2 separate regions of the Homo sapiens genome follow, and region 1 is linked to region 2. Evidence: fine-mapped expression QTL. Tissue or cell type: whole blood. Region 2 holds a variant in brackets; the other region holds the start of a gene. All regions are shown on one strand. Distances are between the middles of the regions.

Region 1 (8,195 bases), 80 kb before region 2:
TTTTTCATATCCTCATACCCCTATTTTTGGTTTCAGGTAAGACAGCTTACTGAGTTTGGAGAAGGAACAAAGAGACTTTTCCGAACCACCGAACCAAAGGACTCATCTAGGGTGAGCTCAATGAATCTAAAATCGGGAACACACATTGCAGCCCCTGTTTGGGAAATCAGCTTAAGAGCAATCTCAAGTCTCCACAAGAGGCGGAGGTCCATATTCCAAAATAATGTGAGCCTTCAGTTATTTGTAGGTAGAATTCAATGGAAGAAGGGGTGTTATAGATACGAAAAATCGTGGCTGGCGTTACCAACATTAAATGACTCGTGGTGATGGGGTAAGTTGACAAGTGAAATCCAGTCTCTTCCTAAACAAACGTATCTTTGTAATGAAGAGCTCGTTTTTGCAGCTTCAGTACATCTGGAGGCATCGAATAGCAAACGCTGCCAAAGGAGTAGTCCCTGGATTATCAGGAGTTGCAGAGTGTGTAAAGTGTTGTAAACCTTGAAATTAGTCCTGGACTGAAGGCACTTTCCCTCCTCCCAGACTCGCTTCTCTCTGACACATTTCCCCTTTCAATGGAAAGTCTATGGCAGTCAGGTCCACTCAGCTCAGACTTCAAGTATGTGAGACCACAGGTTCCCACCTTAACTGGTCACCCATTGAGGGACAGCACAAGACCCCGGTGCTGGCGCCAACGCTGAGCTGCGCCCTCTCGGTTACCATGGCGACCGCAGGCGGGGCGAGGCCCCCACTCGCCGCTTCCCCGCCTCTGCCCAGAACCTTTCGAACGCTCCAATTGGGACGACCCTTTCTTGCCTCTGTCCCGCCCCATTCGGCTCTAAGCGCTTTGCGATTGGCCCGGGACGAGCGGCCTGGTACCCAGAGGGCACCACCTCCTGACAGGAAGAGCGGGAAAGTGCACCAGGAGCTGTCCGAGGCGTGAAGCTCACGGGCGCGGCGGGGGAGCACACGGTTGGCTTTGCAGCGAGTTGCCCACTGTCCCATACACAACCCCCCGCTCCCATGACTGCCAAAAGCATGGAGCAGGAGTCGGGGTGCGGGCACACCGTTTGTGGGCCGGCCCGGTCTATCCCGGGGGGCTAGGACGCGACGAGGTTGGAGCGAGGATCCGGCGGCACACTCCGGAGCGCGGAGTATCAGAGGCCAGAGGGAACGGGCCGGGCCCCGGGGGCGGTGCCGGCGGCGGCGGCGGGAGGCGCAGAGCCCAATGAGCGCGCGCACCGCCCCGGGGGCGGGGTCTGAGGAGCGCTCCCCCGCCCTTGCCAGCCCCCGTCCCTCCCCCCGGCGCGGGGCCGCAGTGAGTGAGTGGCACTGGCAGCCTGTCAATCCCTCGGCCCAGCGGCCTTCCAGCCCGGTCCGCGGCGGCTGCTGGCTGGGTGCGCGGCTCCGGCGGCGGCGGCGGCGACTTCTCCCGCCCTATCCATCGGCTGTCCGCCCGGCGCGCGGCCCGCCGGGGCCCTCCTCCGGGCTCAGCGCCCCCGCCGCCTCTGCCCGCCCGCTCCCAAACTTTCCTCCTCCGCCCCCCCTCGCTCCCCGCGGCCCGCCCGCAGGCCTCCTCCTCCGCCGCCGCCCGCCGCCGCCGCCGCTGCCTCCCCCGGGGCCGCCGGGGCTCGGATCCCGCCTGGCCGAGGCGGCGGCGGCGGCCGAGGAGGGCAGTGCGCAGGCTGGCGCGGGGGGCGGCGGGCGTCCCGGCAACTCGGCGGGCGCTGAGGAGCAAGTTGCGCGGGGCCGCCCGGCGGGGCGCGCGGCGGCGAGGAGGCGGCGCGGCGGCCGCGTGAGGGCAGCGGGCGCCGCCGCCTCCGCCTCCGCCACCGCCGCGGAGCCCGGCGCTTCCGCCCGCCGCTTCTCCTCAGCCTCGGCGGCGGCGGAAGCCGGAGCCGGGCGCCCGTCCTCATCGCCTCAGCCGCGGGCCCTGCCGGCCGGGCCGCCCCCTCCCCGCGCGGGCGGGGAGCGCGCGGCCGCCTCCCCCTCCCCCTCCCCCTCTTTCTTCTCCTCCCTCGTCGCCGCCGCCGCCGCCGCCGCCTCAGCCTTCGCCTCAGCCGCCGCCCGCTCCCGCCCGCGCGCGGCGGGATGGACGATCAATCCAGGATGCTGCAGACTCTGGCCGGGGTGAACCTGGCTGGCCACTCGGTGCAGGGGGGCATGGCCCTGCCGCCTCCCCCGCACGGCCACGAAGGGGCGGACGGCGACGGCAGGAAGCAGGACATCGGCGACATCCTCCACCAGATCATGACCATCACCGACCAGAGCTTGGACGAGGCGCAAGCAAAGTTGGTGTCGTCTCATTAAGCATCTTTTGTGTGTGTGCGGGAGCCGGGCCCGCGGCCGAGTCGAGGCCCGGGGTGGCGCCCGGGGCTAGGGCCGCAGCCCCCGGCGGGGAACTTTCTCCGAAAGCCGGCCGCCCGCCCCGGCCTCGGGGGGACTTGCCCGCGCCCCCCGAAGCGGGCGGGAGTCGGCAAAGTTGCTCTGGGGGGCTCGGGACGGACTCGGTGCGGCGCGGATTCCGTGGCGTCCTTTCCCCCGTCCTGCCCCTCGCAGCCCGGCCCCCTCCCAGGGATTTAAACCTCCCGCCCCGACCCCGTGCGGGCCGCGCCGCCGGGAAGTGTAACTTTCTCCTCCGGCGGGGAGTCCCGGCGCCGGCTCCCGCGGCCGCGGGACGACCTCGCGATGCGGGCGGCCACCCGGGCCCGGCGCGGGGCGATGGGCGGTTCCCTGGCGGGTCCGGGTGCGGACGGCCAAGTTCTCGGAGAGGGAGGGCCGCCTTGCAAACTTTGCCGAGCTGTCACCCTCCCGCTGGCCGCAGTCGGCCGGCCTCCTCTGCACAGGAGCGGACGCGGGAGCCCCTCCGCACCCGTCCCCTCCCCCGGGTCGCCTTCGCCTGCCCCCGGGGCGAGGCTCCCCGCGCGGGTTCGCGTCGCGTCTGCAGTGGCCGAGGCTGCTGCCTGCCGGGCAGATGGGTCCGCCTTGTTCCGGCTGCAGCTTTCGCCGCCGGGGCTTGCTGGCTGTCGGGAACTAGTCAACTGGAGTTTTTGTTGACTTCCCACGGTTCAAAAGGGCCTTCCAGAATGGGGGGCTGGAATTAAATCTTGGGTCTAACTTAAAGGAAGGCGCCATATTATTCCATAGGTGATGCTAATACCTTTGTGTTTCGTTATTTGTTTTTTAGGAAACATGCCCTGAACTGTCACAGAATGAAACCAGCGCTCTTCAGCGTCCTGTGTGAGATCAAAGAGAAAACAGGTAAGACGCTGCGCCCCGCAGTGGGCCTGGAGACCCCCGAGGTGGGGGTCGGAGCTACTCCTTCGACTCTCCAGTTGAGAGCTGCTGCTTTTGGGCACCGCCATCTTTGATCATTCTCTCCTTCCCACGTCCTGATCTTGAGAAAAAACTGCAATAAATCTGGAGTCAATTTCTCAGTTCTGCTCCTGGTGTAAAATGAAGTGTAGGTGCGGACCGGGCTGGATCGCCGTCCCTCGGCGGCCGCCCCTGGCTGCAGGCGGGGAGGGGGCCCGGAGCGCCAGCCGCCCTCTTCCCTCTCCTTTCGCCTTGTTTGTGTGTCAGTTTTTAAAAGGAGCAACGGGAGACTGGATGCCAGGACCGAGTCCCCGGGAGAAGCATCGCCCGAACTTTGTTTTACTTAGACAGTCTTAAGCTTCAGCTGCACGGATAGAAGAATAGATGCAATTGAACAGACCCCAGTAGCATGCTTGAATTAGTGTTTTAGGTGGGAAGGCTACTTTAGAGAATCGAGGAAGGGTAATGATGTGTAGACACATACGATGTATTACATCTGTTAATACTTGTATTATTTTGTATTCTGAAGTCATTACACTTGTAACTGTGCTTAATATATAAAGTATAAAAAGGTCTACAGATGCAGGTTAAACAATTTTGAAGTGTCCAAGTCAGGGAATATATAAGAAGATAGGTTTTGCAGAAGTGCTGGAATGAAAACTACAGGTACATATTTGGCAAATTTTTGGCAATTCGTTTCAGTTTAACTTTCTTGTCAGACTTTATTAATTGAAGGTCTTTCAGTCTTGACGTGAGGTAACTGCTCAAACTGAAGCAGAGATTTGGATGTTTTAGTTTGTATTTGGCATTATCTTCCCTGTATGTGGCAAACAAGTACATTAAACAAGCTCTACTGTTTATTTTTTTCCTGTTCTTTTCTTTCTTTTTTTTTTTTTTTTTGGTGTGTGTTGGATGTATGGTATTTTAAAGTTGCCATTTTGAAAGTTGAGGCAAAGGAGAAAAAGTTGAAGTCCAGGATATAGCACTATCCAAGGGAGGCTATTTAGAAGGTTACATGTGATTGTGTTTAAATTGAGTGTACAAATAGCACAGTGCAAATAATTGTTAGGTTGATAGGCGAGTCAGCCTTCTTTGAAACAGGTTTTTCGCTTTGCAATACTATTCTGATCCTAAAAGTAATCAAGAAAAGATGATGAGTTATTGCTGTCTATTAAATATATATGCTAAACCATAATAAGCAGCAAATAATAAGGGAGGCCAAAGAGTACTTTTCCTGGTTTTCATTCACATATTATGGCTGGTTTCTTAATGCTCAGTGATCCTTTCTTGAATTACTAACTTTTATTTTGTGTTGATTTTTAGCTACCTTTAGAAAGCGTTTTGATTTAAAGCAGTAGATAATTTTTATCTGACTGTAAAATAAGACATCTAGCATTCAGTCTTGAAGATTCTTAGTTTAGAAGCTTAAAAGTATGCAATTCTCAGTAAATTCTGATGCTTAGTGTCCAAGGGTTTTCCTGCTATCAGGGCTCCACTTCAGTTTCTGCTGACAGCCAAGCACTGGGGTATTGACTATGTTGTGAATATTAAGATTGATTCGACTTTATACAGCCTTATATTACTAGGGAGAGGGGATGGATACTTATCGCTTCTCATCCCCTTCTCATTATTTGTATTTATTTATTTATTTTTGCCTTTTTAAAGTTTTGGCCTAGCTAGCTTGAGAACTAAACCCAGCAAACTGCTTTTCATGTTGAGACATTTAGCAGCAGGCAGAATTCAATTAGGAAGCATAAGTCCTTTAGTTGCTTATTTGCACAGGACTTAGTTACACCATTCTGAAAGGAAAGTATAGTCAACCACATGTCAAAGGTGAGTTACGAAAAAGAAACAAATCTTTTCAAAGTCTGGGATTACTGGCAGAGAGAGCTTTGGTAGGGCTATTGCTATTTAAAAACCAAGAGGCAGCTGACAAAAGAAATTTTTGTGTTTTAAAATTGTTTCTGGGGCTTTCAGTGATAACTTGTAAATTAGATTCTCTTTTTGTGCTTTGGCCAGTGGATCCACATTTGCACGTTATCTCTTTTGTAAAAAGCCAACAGCCGACAAAGAGTAAAGGCGGCTGTCTGGGTAGAGGCATCTTCCTGCTAGCCTCTCTAAGCTCGAGAGGGATGGGATTTAAGTACTGAGTGATTGATGGGGGTGAAGCTCTTTCTCTTCTTTCCATTCTCCCCTACTACCCATAGCTTCACCTCACTCTCCAAAACTAGTCTTAGAATGAGACAGGGACTCAGAATCCTCAATTCGAAATAAAACAGCTGTGTAGACATTAGTGTTACCAAAGCAAAGAAAGCGGGGCTGCAAATTCCAAGCCCCCCCACTCCTGCTTCCATAGTCGGTCATGCTTTAGAAACATGAACTTATAAAAGAAACATTGTAGAATATATGTATATTGCATAAATATTTTTTAAAAATCATTTTATTTAATCTAATAATACCTAAAAATTAATTCTTTGTAATTTAGAGAAAGTTTACCTAGTCATTTATGAATAGAAACCAGAAACATTATGTTGATGACTCTATTCTGCTTAATGAAGGGGGTTGAGGGTGAACTGTCATTTCAGTGGATAATGTCATTTCAGTTGTGCTTTTCTTCTAAAACAAAACAAAATCATTTTAAAAAAAATCTGTTTATTTGTAGCTCTGCCAGTGGATTTTGAGGTTTCTGATCAGGCAGTGAACACTGCCAGTTCTTATGCACATGGGGGATTTAGTTTAGAAAACATCTGTTTCCCCCTCTACCATATATGAAAAGGTATTTTTCCCTTCTGACAGATAAATGGGTAATCTACTACAATTATATTATTTTCTTGTTGAGAGGTAAGGAAAGTATACTTCTACTATAAGATGCTGCTTTTTCTTGAGAATATATTCTTTCGTAAAATTGATCATACCATTATTTTTGGGCAGAAATGTCTCTCATTGTTGAATTGTGATATTTGTGCATTTTGAGAGCACCCAAAAAGTTGTAGGCTTTAAAATAAAAATAGTTGTTTATTTTAAACCAAGTAACCAGTGAGATTATTGTTGATATGTTAAGATTTTTCTCCTGATTTTTAAAGCCATATTTTATCATCTGTCTCTTATTAAATATCCCTGATGCCACAAGGTCTGCTCACCTGCATACCTCTTTTGGTGTATGCCCCCACCTCTTTTTGGTCATCTTAATCTTAATTGTTGAAGTGCTTTCCTTTGTGAAATATTTCATCCTGAAAAATCTTGTCTTCTTTCCAAAGCCCTTAATTGTGCGAGTTTAAGTGAAGGAAATAGTTCTTTTTCAAGAAAAAAATATTTATTTTTTAAATGAAATCCCACATTTTAGTAGATAATATGAATCACATTATTGTGAAAAATGTTATGCATGAAAAAAAATAAACACAACCTTTTCCTTTTCAAATAATAGGTTAAAATACTCCATGTTGATGGCTGCCAACCAAACTCTGATTTATTGCCACCACAAACCCTAAATAGCGTTCATTTACTAGTAATGTCTAATGGCATACATGATGGTTTGCCAGATTTGTAGCCTTTGTGAGGCTTATAAGTAGGACTGACTTGGGAAGATCATAAAACTTAATGAACTTCTCTACTGCAGGAGGTGTCCGCAGGGGAAGAGAAAGGCCTGCTTGGTTGGTTGGGCTGGTTGAAGTATTTTTTATGTTTAAGGAGAAGAAAATGACTAGTAAAAATGCCTTACTTTTAAAGGAACCCTCCCTAGAAAGAGTCATAAGAATTTTAGATATTAAAACTAGATCAAGAGTATAGTTTACAAGTGAGGTTTTATGTGCATTTAGTATATGATGTGAGATTAAACCTTTTATCTTTATTGCTAGAAGTGTGACTAGCTTTCAAAGAGACAAGGCAGTACTGTCATTCGACACCTCTCTATTTAATTGTGAACCCACAGGTTTAGAGACTCTTTGGAGTCTTTTTTTGGTGTGCTTCTCTTTTTAAGGTTTCAATATAAAAATCTGTTACATTTTTCTTTGTACAGTGCTGTGTGATTCTTTTAATTCTACATATGTAAAAATCAATTTTTTCAAGTGAAAATTTAGCAAGAAAGGTGAAAATTGTTATATATTAGTCTAAATGTTATTATATATTTTGCATATGCTTTTAAGTTGCTCTTGCACTATTTCCAATATAATTATCATCTTTTGTTTCAAGTTTTAAAAACAAATGCACTGTTCCATACATGATTCCTTTTTGTGTTTTCATGAAACACATTTTGTTTTAATGAACTTATTTTCAAGATTTTAACAACTTTTTATTGTGGACACCTTTGAAACATAACATGCAGAGAGCAGAGACTCTTGAACCTCCCATGAACTCAGTGCCCATCTTCAGCAATTAGCAATACTTGGCCAGTCGTGTTTTCTCTGTAATTCCCACCATTCCAAAATTATTTTGAAGCAAATTTTAATGGTTCTTTAATGTTTTAAGTTTCATATCAATTTTAAGCATTAGGTCTGCTTATATTGGAAATATTAAGTGATTAAACAGGAAAAATACAAAGTCAGAGTATCTTGGAAATGTTATAAATTATATTGCTTTATCAATATATTTTTCTTAACTTAATATTTTACCTTTTTTTTTTTCTATTTTTATAGATTTGGTATCTTACTGGAGCTTTTGTAGGAGGTTTTCAGAGAAGTTGTAAAAGAAAGGGATTTTTCTACTTCTTTATTCTTCCATTTCCATCCTAACAAAATAGCACATATAATACATTTGTAGAAAACCTGGAGAAAAATCTCATTGCCAAGCTGGTTTAGAACCTCATGATCTAAAGTATCATGTGGATATTATCTTTAAAATATAGAGACATTTTCCAATCCTGTTCTTTATTTTTTTCTTCCCAATAA
Region 2 (11,396 bases):
GTGTTTTGACTAGAGAAAAGTAGGCTAGGCTGGGCGCGGTGGCTCATGTCTGTAATCCCAGCACTTTGGGAGGCTGAGGTGGGTGAATGACTTGAGGTCAGGAGTTCGAGACCAGCTTGGCCAACATGGTGAAACCCCATCTCTACCAAAAATGCAAAAATTAGCCAGGCATGGTGGCCCGCACCTGTAGTCCCAGCCACTCAGGAGGCTGAGGCAGGAGAATTGCTTGAACCTGGGAGTCAGAGGTCGCAGTGAGCTGAGATCGTGCCACTGCACTCCAGCCTGGGTGACAGAGCAAGACTTTGTCTCAAAAAAAAAAAAAAAATGTAGGCTAAAGGGTTAAAGGATTTTTATGAGCTTGATGCCAGGTGTTTGACCTCTGTATACAACTACTATTATTATTTTTAGCTTTATCAATAAAGGATGAAACATAAGGAAGTGTCCTGAAAGTGAAAGTAAGAAAGATTGTGGTTTGATTTGTAGAGGGGCTACGTAACCACTAGAGTGAAAAATGACTGGTCCGTTTGTGAGTCTCTGTACCTGTTGATCTGTCTTGGGTGTGTGCTAGATATGCCTGGAATGAAGAATCTTAACCAGAAGCATGCTCAAGGGCCTGTCCACAGTTCCGTTATTCCATGATGCCTTATTGATCCAGTATTTCAAAGGAAAGTATACCTTTCTTTATTATGAGAATGCATATTTAATTAATTTGTTGTGCACAGGACACTTAGGCTTCTCATTGCTGTTTTCCAGGTGTCTCAAAGGACAAGATAACTCTAGTCTCCAAGGTATATTGTAAGTCTAGTCCTAGGCCTTCCTAGTTTATAAGGAAGTTAACAGGGTCTAGAAAGATACAGTCTTTCAGACTAACAGGTTCTTATTGATTGTATTAGAATTTAAATTAGAATCTATATGATGAATTACATTTGATGAATCAGTTGGCTTTTTTTTTTTTTTAAATACTCATTGCTTACTAGACAGTGGGGGACAACAAAGTCTCCAGAAATGGCTGATCTCAGCATTGCTATCTGTAGCCGCAGCTGTTGTTATGTAACAATAACGATAGCTACCATTGACTGAACGTTGACTGTTTGCCATGCGTTGTGAAAAGTGCTTTACATGCATTAGTTCATTTAATCCTTGTATCAACTCTATGATTTAGGCCACTGATTCTCGGACTTTTTGTTTTCAGGATCTCTTTCCATACCACATTTAAAATTAAAAATAATTGAGAATTGCCAGGCATAGTGGCTCACGCCTGAAATCTCAGCACTTTGGGAGGCTGAGGCAGTGGATCACTTGAGCTCAGGAGTTCGAGACCAGCCTGGATAACATGGCGAAACCTTATCTCTACAAGAAATACAATAATTGGCTGGGCGTGGTGGCATGCACCTATTTTCCTAGCTATTCAGGAGGCTGAGGTGGGAGGATAGCTTGAACCTGGGAGGTGGAGGTTGCAGTGAGCTGAGATTGTGCTACTGCACTCCAGACTGGGCAACAAAGTGAGACTCTGTCCCCCGCAAAAAAAAACAATTATTGAGAACCTAGCAAGCTTTGGCTTATGTGGGTTATATTTATTAGTATTTACTGTATTAGAAATTTAAAAATTTTATTAGTTTATTTTAAAATAACAATAACACGTTAGCATAAGTATCATTTTAAAATAAAAAACAACTTATATTTCCAAAATAAAAAATTAGATGATTGATATTGTTTTACTTTTTTTTTTTTTTAACAAATTCTTTAATGTCTGGCTTCAACAGCTGTTTTCTCATATTTCCTTCTGCATTCTGTTGTGATGCCATGCTTCACGTAGCCTGTTGTCAACTTCATTGTATACTCATGAACAAATTAGAGTTAAAACAGAAAATGTGACATCTTAATGAATTATGAAAACAGTTTTGACCTTGCAGAGCCCTGAGGGTACCTCAGTGACCCCACGGGTACCTGGGCCACAGTTTGAAAACCACTGATTTAGAAAGTATCCTCATTTCATCAGTAAGCATCACTGTGTACTTCTGCTATCCTGTATTGCTAACAAGTGTCCATTTTTCTTTTTTACTCTCAATTTTGGCATTTAGAGGATCAATTCATGATTGTGATATCGCCAAGTTTAATGTAGTAGCTTTGTTTAGTTTAGGAATCTTATTTGGGAACTTGCCTAGAATGTCCTGGAAGGAAGTCTGTTTAATTTTGCATTGGGAGATACTTTATAAATGTTAGCTGTGGGTGGCAGTTTTCAACCAGTTAAATTCTACCATTATCTTTGAGAAAGGCAATAACGTTAATATTTAACTAGTTCCAGAAGTTAGGATAGAACATTTAATTCCAGGAGAAAACAGCTAAAATTGCCTGTAGTGAATAGAGATTCTCGCCTAGTAAATTCCTTTATTTACCACAATCTTACCAGGTTCTTTTGAGGCATGATTTTTACCTGTTTTAACATTTTTCATGGCTCAATTATTTTACATATAGGATTCTTTGAAAAAGAAGTGCTTCCTAACTTTAAATTCAAATAATTTATTTACTATTCTCATATCTTGATTATTTGTCACAAATGATATAGTAATAACCTTCCTTTCTCTTCAAAATGTTTTTATGTGAAGTTCAAACAGAATTGAAAATCAGATAATATAAGTCTTGTCGACTCTAGCTTGTCTGGAATATTCACAAATTAATGAAGGGTCATTGGTGATTATGGGATTTTTTCCTTTGAAAATATATCTAATGAATACATAAGATATATTTCATAAACATAATATGGTAATGTCACTACTAAGTATTTAGACAGTTCAGCTTATTGGGTGATGACACACACTTTTTTTCTTTGAAAATATATGCATAAGATATATTAAATATTTGAAAAATATAATAAAGGTAATGTCAGTACTAAGTATTTAGATGGTTCAACTTATTGTGTGATGACTTTATTCAGAAGAGTGGATTGCTCTGACCCTTAATTATGGACATATTTTTTAATTGACACATAATATTTTCTATATTTATGGTGTACATGTGATATTTTGTTGCATGCATAGAATGTGTAATGATCAAGTCAGAGTATTTAAGGTATCCATCACCTTAAGTATTTATTATTTCTCTGTGTTTGGTAACATTTCAAGTTCTTTCTTCTAGCTACTTTGAAATATACCACACATTCTTGCTAACTGTAGTCACTCTACCCTGCTATCAAACATTAGAAATTATACTTTTAATCTAACTGTATGTTTGTACCCATTAACCAATCCCTCTTTATCCACACCTCCCACCCACACCCCTCCCAGTCTGTGGTGTCTGTCACTCTATTCTCTACCTCTGTGTGATCAACTTTTTTGGCTCCCACATATAAATGAGAACGTGAAATTGGGACATAACTTTTAACCCAATAAAATTATGCAGTATATCAATGAATGTATTTGAATGAATTATTAGTGGTAATTCTGAAGTAAAGACCCATGTAGGGTATATGGACTTTTTGCATTTTGATTTTTGCTTATGAAATATTTCAAACACATAGCCTTTTATTTCTTCCTGTTAAGTTTAATAAATGTTAACATTTTGCCATCTCTGCTTTAGACATTTATTTTTAAAAAATATCCATTTACATATGTTTGAAGTTTCCCCATCCGTTCAGCTCACTAACTTCCCCACCCCAAATTAGTACCTATTTATCTTATGGTTGGTACATATTCTTCTCATGTGAAAAATGCTTTTACTACACATACGTGTATTTACAAATAATGTTAGTATTTTTAGTATTGACAAATATAATGTGTATATATACACATATGTAATACCTATGTGTCGTATATACACACTGTACATCTTTTTGTAGCTTGATTTTTTGCTCACCAGTTTTCAACATGTACTGCATTGATTTTGATATCCGTGAATTGATTTTATTAGTTTTACCTGCTTTGTAGTATTCTACCGTGCAGATGAACTTCACATTCATTTCACTACTGATGGATGCTTACATTTCATCTGAAATTTTGGTATTATAAACATGCTTGTACACATATTTTTGTCCATATGCAAGAATTCCTCTGAGGTATATAACTAGGAATAGAGTTGTTGGGTTTATAGAGTATGTGTATATCCAACTTTATCTGATGTTGCCAAATTGCTTTCCAAAGTGGTTGTACCAATTTATATTGCTACCAGTAATAAGACTGATACAGAGGTTTGTTCTGGAACTACGCATTTTGGAAGGATCAGAAACTAAATTCATCTAGGACCTTAGTCTTCTGTGTCCTTATTTGCTGGATACAGATATTAGTAGTCCTTAGGTTTGGACTTTTGCTGGATATAATGATGTGTATTTTGTATTTTTAGGAGTACTAGTTTGCTGTCCAGAGGATTTACTTTGAATTATTAGTAAACCAACAAGATAAACACAGAAGTCATTCAGTTAAATACATTTTCATCACATTTTCATTGGGTAATAATTTTGCTTTTGACCTATCAGATCTGAGATATATATACTCAGAGATACTGAGATATATGTACTGCCTAGACAAATTTTCCATAGTTTACAGCAACAAATGGTTTATATAGAAATGCTATATTAAAGTATATTTTTATTTGTTAAACATAATTTATTAGGAATAGAACAAAAACCAAGTCACAATAATGATTTATCAAAACAGAGCCCTATAAGAAGGGAGATGGGAATGAATACAGCTCTTCTGCTATCTTGAAACATTCTGTATTCTAAGCCAATTAGAACTGGTAATACAATTTTACCAGTTGGTCATTTAAGAAAATGCAAGATTAGAAAAACATTTGATGATCCATCTGGAAAAAATAAGATTGGTCAGTTTTTTAAACTACTTTCTACCCTCAATTAGCATATCATGTCATATCAGACCAAACATAGTAACTTTGAGCTATAGTTAAACAATTTACTTATGATAGGAAGTTATTGACCACAAGGTCTTCTCACAGATTAAAAGTTTGGTAATATGTTTAGAATGTTCAGTTTATTCAATTTGTTAGAAAATCAAAAGGAACGTTGAGTCTAAACGTCGTTTGACAGATTTGTTTGCCTTTATTCCTATTAAAAGTATTTCAAAACCTTTGATTTGATTCTGAACATCAGTAATGTAAGTCGCCTTCTTTGTTCTAGGATAAACAGAACACATGCTTCTGCAGCTCCCTTGATCAATGAGAAAATGCCTTATATCAAAACCACATGGCGAGAATGTAGCTGTAGGTGATCCCCTGAGAGGTTTTTTGATTGGAGCTGGGAGTCTGGTATTGAAAGAAGAGGGAGACAGACAGGTTGTTTGAAAAAACTCCCATCAGACCAAATGCTTGTGTTGGAGCCATGCTACAACATTTTTCATGTAGAAAGTGCAACTTTATCAATTTTAAATGTTAAAGACGATTCGTTGCATGATTGTAATAACATATTTTCACTTTGGAATTTCTGTATACATCTCTCTGTATTTCATTAGCTAGTGGCCCAGAAATTCATTTATTCACATGCTGCTTGTCAGTCTTCCATTTCTAGAATTTTATTCTCAAACTACATCATTACAAGATTCATTATTTAATTTTTAAAGTCAAATGCAACCGAGGTACATTTTCTTTAGCTAATATACACTTGTCACGTTTCTGGACAGCAAGAGAAAATAAGCTTGCTGATTTGGTTTATAATTATATGTATCATATTTATGATGATATTCTTAAGAATTCTAATATTAGGTGAGTAATCTCAACATTTAATTTGCTAGTCAGGGGTTGCTTTAAACTTTTGTACATACGTAAGTTTTGGTGCAATTTAGTTAAAAAACTCATTATAGGAGATGAGTATGTGCTTCATTTTTAATATTTCCTCCATTCACTTTGAAGTTTCCTTTGAAAGCCAAACTATTAGGCTTGTTATGTCAGCTCTTTCCTTAAATTAAAAAAAATGAGCAACAAAGCAGTAATATTTTAGTGTTTTTCTGAAAGAAGAGAAGCAAAATAATTGTTTTAAGAAGATTCTAATTGAAGAGTTAGAGTGCCATGGTCTTTTCAAGACTGGTTTGGTCCTGGTGCTGCTCCGTGGCAGTGGAGCTCTAGATGCCTGGCCAAGCATCCCTTACCGACATCTGGAACCAGTTGCAATACATCACTGTCAAAACTGCTTTCTATACGTATCTGCATTTACACATTAGTTACCCACGCAGCACTCATCAAAAAAGCTGAACAATCTTGACATGGTGTCCCTTGTGGAACTGCAAAGGTGAACTGAAGTTGGGAGGCAGTGTCTCGCGTCACTGTCTGCTGAGCTCTTACAACAGGAAGCTTGATTAAAAGTGAAAGGAAAAATTTATCAGTTGTCTCAGCACTGTAGAGTTCAGTATAATTTTTTATTTACAAAAGCGTTATTTTTTGCTATCTAAAGCATACGTAATATGAGCATTCAACTGATTTTGTTTAGAAATAAGAATATTTTTATTTTTTAGTTGAAAAATATTGCCTTGCATGTTTCTTAGATTTGCTATTAGTTATATAATCTATTTTATTGTTCATGTTAAGGAAAATGTAAATTTAACAATAGAACTATGAAGAATTATAGATACAATATTGATAGCACTGTGTCAGTTAAATTTAACTGAAGTATAGCATAAAATTTCAAACAAACAAACTTCTTTAATGTTACATTGGTGATAGTAATGTTTGTGTTTATTAATTTTCAAAAAGCTGAGTAATAGAAAAGTACTTATTTATAGGTGTTTTATATTTGTGTATCATATGTGTTTTTGAAAATGAAATAAGAGTTTTGAACCCCCCAAATTGGCTACTTACATAAAGAACTATACAGAAGCCTTTGCTATCATATCCTCTATAATAGTAATAATAATAATAACATTAATACTAATGATGACAGTGGTTAACATTTACTGGGCTCTTTATGTACTAGACACATTTTGTCTATTATCTCATTCAAACTTAATAAATGGAGGTAATATTTTTCCCATTTTATAGAAGGAGAACCATGTTTAAAGAAGCTAAGTAACTTGTCCACATTCACAGTAAGTGTAGAGCTGCGATTCAAACTCTAGCTGTTTGATTCTAAGTCATTGTGGTTTTTTT[G/T]TTGTTGTTGTTCATTGGTGTGTATGTCTTACTTTTTATTATAAAATTTCCCCCAAATTCACAAAAGTAGAGGGTACAATGAACTCCTGTATAACCACCAGTCAGCTTTAACCACTAATATGTTATACTTGTTTTGTATCTCCGTGCAGATTCACATTCCTTCCTCCTGCCCCCCACCTGTCCTTTTTCATATACCATTGACTTGCTGAAAAAATCAGAATGTTTTTCCTGTAGAATGCCCCAATTCTAGATTTGGCTGATATTTCCTTGTGGCAGTATTTAATTTACGCTTCTATTTGCTGAATTTCTTCTAGACTAGAATTAGATCTAAAAGCTTGATTAGATTCATCATGCATCACATCAGCCATAACGTTTAGTCATCTTACTTTTTGCAATGCTAAGACTGATTGATCAGTGGATTAGGTAGTGCCAGCCTGATTTCTTCATTGTAAAGTTCCCCTTCTTTCACCTAATGGTTTTACCATCTATGGATGACCCAGTGCCTGGATTACTGAATTTCTTAGGCCTTGAAAATGGTCCACTTGTTATTCTTTCTGTATTTATTAGCCAGAATGTTTTTTTTTTTTTGAGATGGAGTCTCGCTCTGTTGCCCAGGCTGAGTGGTGCGATCTCGATTAGCCAGAGTGTTTTAAAAGAGCTTTATCCATTCACTAGGGCTATTTGGTTACCCAGAAATACAATTCATACTGGAAAGGCAGTATAAAATATTTAATTCTTTCCCTTTAATTATCAATTTCCAGAGTAATGAGGTAGTGCCTTAGTATCCTCCAGTGGTGTATAACTTTTGATTTTTTTTAGTAGTTATTATGAAGTGTTGGCTTTTTGTATATGTAGTGTGTTTTAATCAGTTTCAGACATTATACTTTTTGATGCTGAAATTGTACCACATTTGTCCAGTGGGAACCCCTTCAAGTTGGCTCCTGTGTCCTTCTGATAAGACTCCATTTTTAGCTTTTTTAGCTTCTTACTTTCTGGCCCACCAAAACGTGCCAGGCTCATCTTGTACATTTCCTCCACCAGATGTAGAATCTGCCATTTCTCCAAAGAGCCATGGTTCTTTTTATTGAGGAGTGATATACAAAGGCCAAAATTTGAGCCTTAAGGGTACTTATTGCTACTGGGTTGTTTGCTTTCAGGAAAAGAGAGGAGATAAGTGAGCTCACATTGATAATTCTAACTCAAATGTAAGATTACAGGGTTTCACTTAAGTTCTTAGATTTTATATTTATATATCTTTTATGACAAAAAATTTATTCTTAACAAAATTAAGATAATTACTTGATTTATTCTATATATTGTTATAAATATATACTGGTTTTCTTTTCTTTCTTTTTTTTTTTGAGACGGAGTCTCGCTCTGTTGCCCAGGCTGGAGTGCAGTGGCGCGATCTCGGCTGACTGCAAGCTCTGCCTCCCGGGTTCATGCCATTCTCCTGCCTCAGCCTCCCGAGTAGCTGGGACTACAGGCGCCCGCCACCACGCCTGTCTAATTTTTTGAACTTTTAGTAGAGATGGGGTTTCACCATTTTAGCCAGGATGGTCTCGATCTCCTTACCTCGTGATCCACCCGCCTCGGCCTCCCAAAGTGCTGGGATTACAGGCGTGAGCCCCTGCGCCCAGCCTAATGGTTTTCAGATAACAATTGACTACTGACTGAAGTTAAAACTTTCTGTGCAGTTTTTTGGGAGAGGGTCCTCAAATTATATTTCACTGAAGAGATAGACAGTTATGTCATTTAATTAGTTTTTCTATTCTTAGGATTGTTTTCCCTCATGACTTAGAGCCTGAATGGCAAGTGACTGTCCTCAGATTCACTTGCTTAGATTCTCAGATATGATAGTATTGATCTTTTTCCCTTTGCAGGTATTTATTTGTTGGTGAGTTCTGGGTTTCATGGCTTTTAGGACCCTTTTGTATTTCTCTTTACCACCACTGCTTCATATAGCTGCTGATCACAGGTCTTGCTGCTGTTGGGTGTTTTTGGCCACACCTATCTATAATTCCAGGGTTTAGGAGGGATTCCTTGTCACCTGCTTTTGTAGGAAATGTCATCTGTGGTTTATTATTTCCTGATGGCTCTGTCTGGTTTTGTGAGGGAGTTTGGTGAGACTTAAAAGTACCTACATTGTTATGTCATTTCGGGAAGTTCCAGCATCTGTGTAATCTTAACCGCTGTAGCATGCAACTTGGTTTAAGGAAAATTTCTTTGAGCTTTATTCTTGGGTGCTAATTATTGAAGTACAATTAGGAAGGGGAGCAAATAGGGAGAAGAAATTTGTGTTTACTGAGTTCCTGCAATATGCTAAGAATGTACTGGTAATGAAAAAAATTGGCCAGGCGTGGTGACTCATGCCTGTAATCCCAGCACTTTGGGAGGACGAGAGAGGTAGATTGCCTCAGCTCAGGAGTTTGAGACCAGCCTGGGCAACATGAGAAACCCATCTCTACTAAAAATAGAAAAATTAGCTGGGCGTGGTGGTGCACACCTGTAGTCCCAGCTACTTGGGAGGCTGAGGCAGGAGGATCACCTGAGCCTGGGATGTGGAGGTTGCAGTGAGCCTTGATTGCACCATGCCACTGCACTCCAGCCTGGGCCACAGAGGGAGACGCTGTCTCAAAAAAAAAAAAATTGTTTTATTGCTGAATCCTTATAATACCACCGTAAATTTTATATCCTAATTTTATAGATTAGAAAACTTGAAGATTAGTAAAACTTGAGGATTAACCTAATGTTGTATGGCTAATAAGTGACAGAGGTGGATTCAAACTGAAATGTATTCAAATTCTGTGTTTTTCCCTATTTAGACTAAATTTACTTTCTAGGAACTTTTTGTAATATGATTTCGTTCAAAGGAGGCTTGCAGAGTACTTGAAGCTAAAAAGTTTTAGGTGGTCTAAAACTTTTGGCTATTTTGAATAATGCTGCTATGAATATTTGTGTATAAGTTTTTGTGTAGACATATATTTTCATTTTTCTTTGGTATATACCTTGGAATGGGATTGCTAGGTCATAGATAACTATGTTTAACTTTTGAGGAACTGCCAGCCTGTTTTCCAAAGTGGCTGTACCATTTTGTATTTCTACCTGCACTCCAAGAGGGTTCCAATTTCAGTTTAACTTTAAACAGTATCATTAATTGGATAAACACTGCTTGCTTTCTCTGAGCCAGAGATTTTTCTAGATGTTGGGAATACAGCAATGACTATGGCTGACAAATATGCTGCCCTGAAAGACCATACAATTAAGTGCAGGGAGACAGATAATAAATAAGTCAATAAATAGAATAATTTCGAAGCATGATAAACATTATGAAGTATTGACTGAAGTAGGGGGAGACTTTAGAAAAAGTAGTTTGGGAAGGTTTCTGTAAGAGAAGGAAAAATATGAGCTGAGACAGAGAAGTATAGCTGAGGAGGGAACAGGGAAGAAAAACTCTAAAGATGTCACCTTTCAACAAGTTTTTAAGGTGATACATTGATGTGATAGTGGCTAAAACTAAGAATGGATCAATTATTTTTACTTGTTTTTTTTATTTTTATTTTTTTGAGACCGAGTCTCACTCTGTCCAGGCTGGAGTGCAATGGCTTGATCTCGGCTCACTGCAACCTCCACCTCCCAGGCTCAAGGGATTCTCCTGCCTCAGCCTCCCGAGCAGCTGGGATTACAGGCACCACCACTGCGACCGGCTAATTTTTGTATTTTTAGTAGAGACGGGGGTTGCGCCAAGTTGACTAAGCCGGTCTTGAACTCCTGACCTCAGGTGATCCGCCCACCTCTGCCTCCCAAAGTGCTGGGATTACAGGCATGAGCCACCTCACCCGACCAATTATTTTTACTTGTTTGTGAAATATTTAAATCTCAGCTGGGCATGGTGGCTCATGCCTGTAATCGCAGCACTTTGGGAGGCTGAGGTGGGTGGATCACCTGAGGTCAGGAGTTTGAGACCAGCCTGCCCAACATGGCGAAACCCCGTCTCTACCAAAAATACAAAAAATGAGCCAAGTGTGGTGGCAGGCGCCTGTAATCCCAGCTATTCAGGAGGCTGAGGCAGGAGAATCGCTTGAATCTGGGAGGCAGAAGTTGCAGTGAGCCAAGTTCATGCCACTGCACTCCAGCCTCGGTGACGAGCAAAACTCTGTCTCAAAAAAAAAAAAAAAAAAAAAAAAAAAAAAAAAAAAGGGCAAAAGATATGAAAAGACAAGTAACAGAAAAGACAATACAGATAACTCTTAAATGTTGGAAAAAGTCCATCCTCACTCAAAATAGGATAAAAAATAACAATTACTACT

Evidence for each region. PIP is the estimated chance that this variant, and not a neighbour inherited with it, causes the effect.
Region 1: PBX3 starts here. The variant in region 2 is fine-mapped to the expression of PBX3 in whole blood (TOPMed, PIP above 0.99).

Annotation. Positions count from the first base shown.
Region 1 is chr9:125,745,366-125,753,560 of GRCh38, forward strand. It overlaps PBX3 (PBX homeobox 3), which reads left to right and starts at 2,008. Exons shown (of 9, transcript NM_006195.6): 1 at 2,008-2,288; 2 at 3,185-3,258. The coding sequence starts at 2,089. PBX3-DT (PBX3 divergent transcript) reads right to left here and starts at 564. Exons shown (of 2, transcript NR_122032.1): 1 at 51-564. RefSeq lists silencers at 1,103-1,532, 1,783-1,832, 1,843-2,372, 2,643-2,982.
Region 2 is chr9:125,823,767-125,835,162 of GRCh38, forward strand. All of the region lies in intron 2 of PBX3 (PBX homeobox 3), which reads left to right. Among named protein-coding and RNA genes, the nearest start is that of PBX3, 82 kb to the left of the region's middle. The variant G/T (reference allele first, on the strand shown) is at 7,087.